2 linked regions of the Homo sapiens genome follow. The protein of the gene in region 2 interacts with the protein of the main gene of each other region in a biochemical or structural test. Each region holds a gene or a part of one and is shown on either strand. Other genes may lie near its edges.

Region 1 (3,824 bases), on a different chromosome or scaffold from region 2:
CACCAATGTGGTAATTTCTAATACAGTACTTAATACATAGTAGATGCCTAAATATTCAAGGAGCTAAGCTGAATTTCACCTCATCTTTTAATTTCATTTATCATTCTATTCATTATGATCAAGTATGGCTCATCCTTAGAAATAGGTTTTAGTATTTACTTGCCCACAAACTCATCTGTCAATTTCTGGCCATCCCCCCCACCATCCCAATATGTCATTTACTGGTTTGGGGGAGACAATATTCAATACCTCAATAAAGTAAGAATCAGAAAATTAAATGTCTGCAGGGCCATAAAAATAAAGAGCAAAGCAAGACAGCAAGGCAGACTATGGAGAACTAGGAAACACATCTCACCTAAAAGTTTCAGCTGGTTACCGCTATAAATGAATATGGGCTTGCTGTTGACAGATCTTCCAATTTTTCAAGGTTAAGTCAGAAACTCAGAGGTCTGTGTACATTTTTAAGACATTAAAAATATTGTGTAAACCAAACAAAATACTTATACAGGTCAAATCCAACCACAGGTTGCCAGTTTGCAACCTCTGCTACAGAAGTTCTCTGCAAAAGTGATGGCGTGAGAAGAGTTCTATCCTAGCAGATAATCTAAGGCAGCCCCTAAAACTAAGTAGCTCCTTGGAAGCATCTCCTGCAACACTCAGCCCAACTCTCACCATTCTGATTGACCTGAAAACCAAATTAATTTGGCAATTTAATTGAGCAAAATGAGCCCCTGCTCTGTACCAGGTGCTGAGGAATCAGAAATGAACAGTAGTGCTAAAGTACAGCTAATATTTATTGAGCATGTTCTAGGTGCCAAGCACTGTTTTACACGTTATGTATATTGACTCATTTAATCCTCACAAAACCCTATGAGATTACTATTATCCTTAAAGACTGAGGCGCAATGAGGTTTTATTTGTCCAAGGTCACACAATCAGCAAGCAGCAGTGCTTAATAAGGACCTGAGACAGACTCCACCAAAAAGAGCTCACAATTTGAAAGCAAGCCCCATTCAATAAATGATGCTGGGATCACTGGTTATACATAGGGAAAAAAAATGAAACTGGACCCGACCTTACACTACACATAAGAATCCATTCCAGATACATTAAAGATCTAACCATTGAAAACAACAGTAGGTATTCCAGAATATAAAGAATAATTGCAGGCTGGGCACAGTAGCTCACACCTGTAATCCCAGCACTTTGTGGACTGCTTGAGCTCAGGAGTTCCAGACTAGCCTGGGCAACATGGCGAAACCCCGCCTCTACAAAAAATGCAAAAAGTAGCAGGGCATGGTGGCGCATGCCTGTGGTCTCAACTGGCATGGGAGGTGGGAGGGTTGCTTGAGCCCAGGAGGTTGAGGCTGCAGTGAGCCGAGATCGCACCACTGCACTCCAGCCTCGGTGACAGAGCGAGACCCTGCCTCAAAACAAAGAATAACTGCAAATCTTAAAGGAAAAGATTGATAAAGTTGATACTAAAATTCAGAACTTTTTAACAAATGACACCTTAAAACAGATGTTTTAAAATAAGCAACAGGCCAGGCGCAGTGGCTCACACCTGTAATCCCAGCACTTTAGGAGGCCAAGACGGGTGGATCACTTGAGGTCAGGAGTTTGAGACCAGCCTGGCCAACATGATGAAACCCCATCCCTACTAAAAACACAAAAATCAGCCAGGTGTGGTGGCACATGCCTGTAGTCCCAGCTACTTGGGAGGCTGAGGCAAGAGAATCACTTGAACCTGGGAGACGGAGGTTACAATGAGCTGAGATGGCACGACTGCACTCCAGCCTGGGCGACAGAGCAAGACTTCATCTCAAAAAAAAAAAAAAAAAAATTAAAATAAGCAAGAAACTGGGAAATGACATCTGTAATATCTACCAACAACAAAGGATTAATAATCAGAATATATAAATAAATCTTTTGTAAAAGACAACCCAATAAAAAAAATGGCAAAACAAGCCCGAGCATTATCTAATCCGTGTAAAGCTGGCACTACCACAGTTACCACACAGTACACTCCAGAACAATAGACCTTGCCATCACTGACTGATATAAATATTCAGGGGTCTGTGTTATGCTGCAGGTACACAGAGCATGGGTAATCCAGCCCAAAGGGCAGAGCCAAGACGTTTATTCATTCTCTATCATCATATAGACATTGGATGGCAAATTAGAGGTTGAACATCCAACACTCAAACACATAGATCAGGGGTTGGCAAATGTTTTTGTAAAGAGTATTTCCAGCTTTGTGAGCTGACACAACACATCTCTGTCACGACTACTCAACTCTGCTATTGGTACCACAAAAGAAGATATGGACAATATATAAATAAATGAGTGTGGCTATGTTCCAATAAAACGTTATTTACAAAAACAGATCGTGGGCCAGATTTGACCTATGGACCACAGTCTGTCGACCTCTGACATAGATAGTTGTGCTTTTTCTACACTATAGGTAGGACACTTCCCATGTTTTCCCCTGTCTTTTATGTCTGCTGACACCTCTGATTTCCTTAACCAAAAACTACACCACACTTGACAGCTTTGCAATGGTTTCCAAAACTCTATTACTCTGCCAAAAAAACCTTTTCGCCCTTATTATCAATGAGAATTCTCCCCTCATTTTCCTTTCACTTTTTTTTTTTTTTTTGAGACGGAGTCACGCTCTGTTGCCTGGGCTGGAGTGCAGTGGTGCGATCTCGGCTCACTGCAAGCTCCGCCTCCCGGGTTCACACCATTCTCCTGCCTCAGCCTCCCGAGTAGCTGCGACTACAGGCGCCCGCCACCACGCCCGGCTAATTTTTTGTATTTTTAGTAGAGATGGGGTTTCACCATGTTAGCCAGGATGGTCTCGATCTCCTGACCTCGTGATCCGCCCGCCTCGGCCTCCCAAAGTGCTGGGATTACAGGCGTGAGCCAACACGCCCAGACTTCCTTTCACTTTTTTAAACCTCTTTGACAGACACCACCCCAAACCAGAAATTTAAAAAACTCCCCCTAAGCCACTCACAATGTCAATAATCAACACCTGCAAATTCTAACTCCACTCAATGCCCACAGCCTCTGCCTTAGTTCAGATCCTCATTACTTCTAACTCTGCTCAGTGCCCACAGTCTCTGCCTTAGTTCAGATCCTCATTACTTCTAACTCTGCTCAGTGCCCACAGTCTCTGCCTTAGTTCAGATCCTCATTACCTCTCTGGTCTTCAGTCTACCCTCCTTCCAAAGAACATCCATTTATCTCCTAGAAATTAAACCTCCACCACATACTCCCCTTCTCGAAGATCTTGAATGCCTCTCTCAGCTAAGGATTCAGTCCAAACTCCTTAGCAAGGTCCTTCACAACCAGGTTCCTAACATGGTCTTCCTAGTCTCATCTCTGGCCATGCTTTCACACACATTCTATGCTCCAGCCACATTCAGTTATTAATACATTCCCTGAAAACGTGTCTTTACCTGAAAGGCCCTTCTCTCCATTTCACTGGCAAATTCCTGTATCTTTTAGGACACATCTCAAATGTCACCCCTTCGCAACACCTTCCCTGATTCTTTGAGCAGACACACCCATCTCCGTGTCCTTATAGCGTTTAATAACTCTTCTTTGGCATCGACCATCCTGAACTATGATTGTTCACATGTCTACTTCACTCATGGGGCTGCATACCCAAAGTGAAGTGACTCTGCCTTAAAAACTTCTGAAGCTACAGAGCCCAGTATAATGCTTGATATGCAGTAGATGCCTTGAGGCACAGTAAACGTTTGCTGAATGGAAGACATGCCTGGCAGTAGGAGTAGGGTTTCTTAACCTGGGGTTCA
Region 2 (3,824 bases):
CCTGGACTCAAGCGATCCACCCACCTCAGCCTCCCAAAGTGCTGGAACTACAGGCATGAGCCACCATGCCTAGGCTAAATAAAAAAAAAAAAAATTATTTTTTGAGATGGATTTTCGCTCTTGTTGCCCAGGCTGGAGTGCAATGGTGCGATCTTGGCTCACTGCAACCTCCACCTCCCAGGTTCAAGCGATTCTCCTGCCTCAGCCTCCTGAGTAGCTGGAATTACAGGCACCTGCCACCACACCCAGCTAATTTTTGTATTTTTAGTAGAGACGAGATTTCACCGTGTTGGCCAGGCTGGTCTTGAACTCCTGATCTCAGGTGATCTGCCTGCCTCGGCCTCCCAAAGTGCTGGGATTACAGGCATGAGCCACCATGCCAAGTTAAAATATTTTTTTGTAATATAAGCTATTATTACTTGGCTCTTTCTTTCTCTCTTTCTCAATTAACTAAAGTACATGAAAAATATTTTTAAATATTTATTGAATAAAGTTGTATTCTTCTAGATCTTAATTTTAAAAGAGATGTGTTCATCACTTTCTTCTTTCTTTTTTAAAAAAACAACAAAAACAAACAAAACCTACAAAAAATTCAATTTAATCATAAGTTCCCTTTAGCTACGTGTGAGGTTGTGAAAAGGAAGAAAGCTAAACACTCTAAGCTAGATACTCTAACAGTCTTAAACATTAAGCTAAATACTCTAACAGTCTTTTCCTACAGATCTTTGACTACACAACAAAGGTGAGGATGTAGGAGGAGGTAGGCGCACAGGAGGAGAAAATGGGAAGTTGCCTGGGAAAAGGGAAGCAATTAGTTCAAGGGATTTCAACAACCAATATAGTAAAACCTGAAGGAGAAAACTGCCAATCAAAGATGCTTACCTTTACACCCCTCACAGGTCAGTGCATTATAGTGGTATCCAGAGGCTCTGTCTCCACAAACAACACACAGCTCATCCCCTTTGATCCTCCCTGCTGACGCGCCCATGCGGGGCTTCTTTGTTACAGGCATCTCTGCTACCTCAGTTTCTCCCTGGTAGAGAGTCTCAGCTGGCATACGCCTGAGTTCATATATTCCAGGAGAGTACCACTCTTCAGGCTGCTGGGGGTAGAAACCCAGGTTGGAATAATAGGATGACGAGGAAATCTGTGGTTGAACTTGGGGAAACTGAACATTGCTGTATTGCGAGTATGGTTCCACTTCCAGGTTCTGTCCCAGAGGACCTGCCACTTGTTCTGTTAAAACACCTGAACAAAAGTGACAACAAAACTGGAATGAATGTCATCATTCTGGAAATTAGAGAGGCAGTTTGGCGTAATGGTTAGGAGTGTGGGCTCTAAGAAAAGATTGAAACATTTAACTACATAAAAGTTTACAACTTCTTTAGAGTATATATATATATATATATATATATATAAAATTAAATGACAAATTAAAAATTCAGAAAAATATCTGCAACATAGAGGACAGACTCATCTCATTAATGTATAAAGAGCTCCTGAAAACCAATAAGAAAATATTTGAGAAGCTATGGAAAAAGGGATAAAGGAAAGGAATAGTCAATGTTAGAAATATAACCGTGTTTTGTAAACAGAAAAATGTGCTCACCTTTGCCAATAATTAAATTTAAATTGAAACTAAAACATTACAGTTTTCATCTTCAAATGTGTGAGGGTTTAAAAAGTTTAATAATACACACTGTTGGGGAAACAAATATTTTTGGGGGGAAATTTGTCAATATTTTCCAGTTTTTTAAACTTCAATGTCCTTTTCACCCAGCATAAATTTTCCACTGCTTGAAAATTTATTTTAGAAATATGCTTGAACCTCTATGAAAAAGTATTTTGTAAAAATATTCACTTGCAGCACATTCGCAAGAGCCATAAATTGGAAACGATCTAAATATTCATCCATAGGAGTCTGCTTCAATAAATTTGTTACATCCATACACTATTAAGTAGATGTAAAACAATTATTTAGATTTCTATGTGCTGTTATGGAAATTTTCTACAATATGGTGCTATATGAAAAAGGTAAGCTATAGACCAATGTGTATATTCACATCGGTATTAAACACCAACTCTGTGTGTGTGTGTGTGTGTGTGTGTGCGCGCACGTGCCCACGTGCAAAGACAAATTTCTGCATGATACAGAAGAAAGTAGGTGGTGGTGACTGTGAGAGGTGATATTTTTACATTATATTCTGGGATAGAAGATTGCATAATTTTTTTTACTGTTTGTAGTTTTTGCCATGTGTATATGTATGTGTTATTTTAATCATTATAAAACAAAGGAGGAGCTTTAAAAAAAAGAATACAGTGCCTGCAATCTATCTACTGGATTCAAATTCCTGCTCTGTTACTTACAATCTGTGTGCAGCTGGCAATTCCTTAATGTCTTTAAGTTGCAGTCTTCTTCTAATAAAACAGAGAATAATAACACCTACCTCATTGGGTTGATGTAAGGATTATATGAGATAATGTGTGCCAAGTGCTTTGCTAAATGTTTGGCACACAGAAGTGCTCGATAAATTATAGCTGACTTAAAATAGGAATAATAACAATTATTCTTACTACCATCATTATTAAAGGAGTCCCTTATTTAGAAAACCTCTAGGTAATAGAAAATCATCAGGTTATGAAAATGCTTCTATTTCCTGGAAACATCAACTATGGCTCTTTAGAAAATAAAAAATTGAAATTATGCAAATGCTGAAAAAATAGACATAAATAAGAGATAGGAAAGTTTACAAATGTGTCTGACTCTTCAAAGTGTTGTCAGACAATTCTAGACCAAAATTCCAATTCCATCTCTTATGAACAGTGGGATTTTGAGCAAATTATTCAAACTATTGATAAATCTTGGTTTTCATGGCAGCAAGGTTGGGATGATAATATCGATATCAAGAGTTAGTCTGAGGATTGAGTGAGATGATACAGATTCACAGTTCCTTATCTGAAACCCTGGCAGTCGTATGTGTTTTAGAAGTCAGAATTTTCAGGATTTCAGAACAGAATACAGTGCTATTTATATATCCCTCCCAGCACAGTCTGGAACAGAACCCAGAATCAAATACAGCAATATTTTCCACAGGGAAACGTATGAATATTCACAGCAAGTGCAATAAGTAAAGACCATAAATAGTTTCACATTCATTCAGGTCAGGTTCTGTCACCAAAAAAGTGTGTGCCAAACTTTTAGAAAAACGTGGTTTTTTGGGGCTTTGGGGATTTCAAATTGGCAATGCTCTTTGCTGTGCTCAAAAGATAGTTGAAACGATTACTATAATTATTATGATTACTATTACCACATTTTGCAGAAAACTTTTATAGAGTTCTTCGTAGTAGCAGGCACTTGTATGTTCTCATTTATTCCTCACAAAACTCTATGAGGTGGGTAACATTATTAACCCCCACTTACAAATGAGTACCATGAGGCACATAGTAGTTAAGCAACTTTACTCCTACCTACCTAAGTAGATGAGACTTGAGCTCTAGGAGTCTAATCTCAAAGCCCATGCACTGAATTGCTGCTCTCTGGGGGTAATTTCAGGTGTGTGATACTTAAAAACATGATCTTCAAAGCCCCTCTCTGCATCCTCCTACTTGTGTTTGTTACCCCCTTCTCGGCCTCCGCTTGCACATAACCTATAACTGGGCCTGCAAGCTTCTGCATGACTCTACCCTTGCTTTCTTTTCCAGCCATTTTGCATGTTCGGACATCTCTGTTTCTTGAATGTGCCTTGCCGCTTCCAGACTCAGGACTTCTCCCACCTGCTGCTTCCTGAGCCTGAAATGGTTCTCAACACAGCCAACCCCTTCCA

What was found.
Region 1: the proteins of NR1H4 (region 2) and NCOA6 form a complex in vitro, tested with the Homo sapiens proteins (one study listed by BioGRID).

Annotation. Positions count from the first base shown.
Region 1 is NC_000020.11:34,818,947-34,822,770, forward strand, and holds part of NCOA6 (nuclear receptor coactivator 6), read right to left. Parts: intron 2,694-3,824; exon of another isoform or gene 356-2,693; intron 1-355. UniProt on the Homo sapiens protein: Nuclear receptor coactivator that directly binds nuclear receptors and stimulates the transcriptional activities in a hormone-dependent fashion. Coactivates expression in an agonist- and AF2-dependent manner.
Region 2 is NC_000012.12:100,508,202-100,512,025, reverse strand, and holds part of NR1H4 (bile acid receptor), read right to left. Parts: intron 1,249-3,824; coding exon 883-1,248; intron 1-882. UniProt on the Homo sapiens protein: Ligand-activated transcription factor. Receptor for bile acids (BAs) such as chenodeoxycholic acid (CDCA), lithocholic acid, deoxycholic acid (DCA) and allocholic acid (ACA).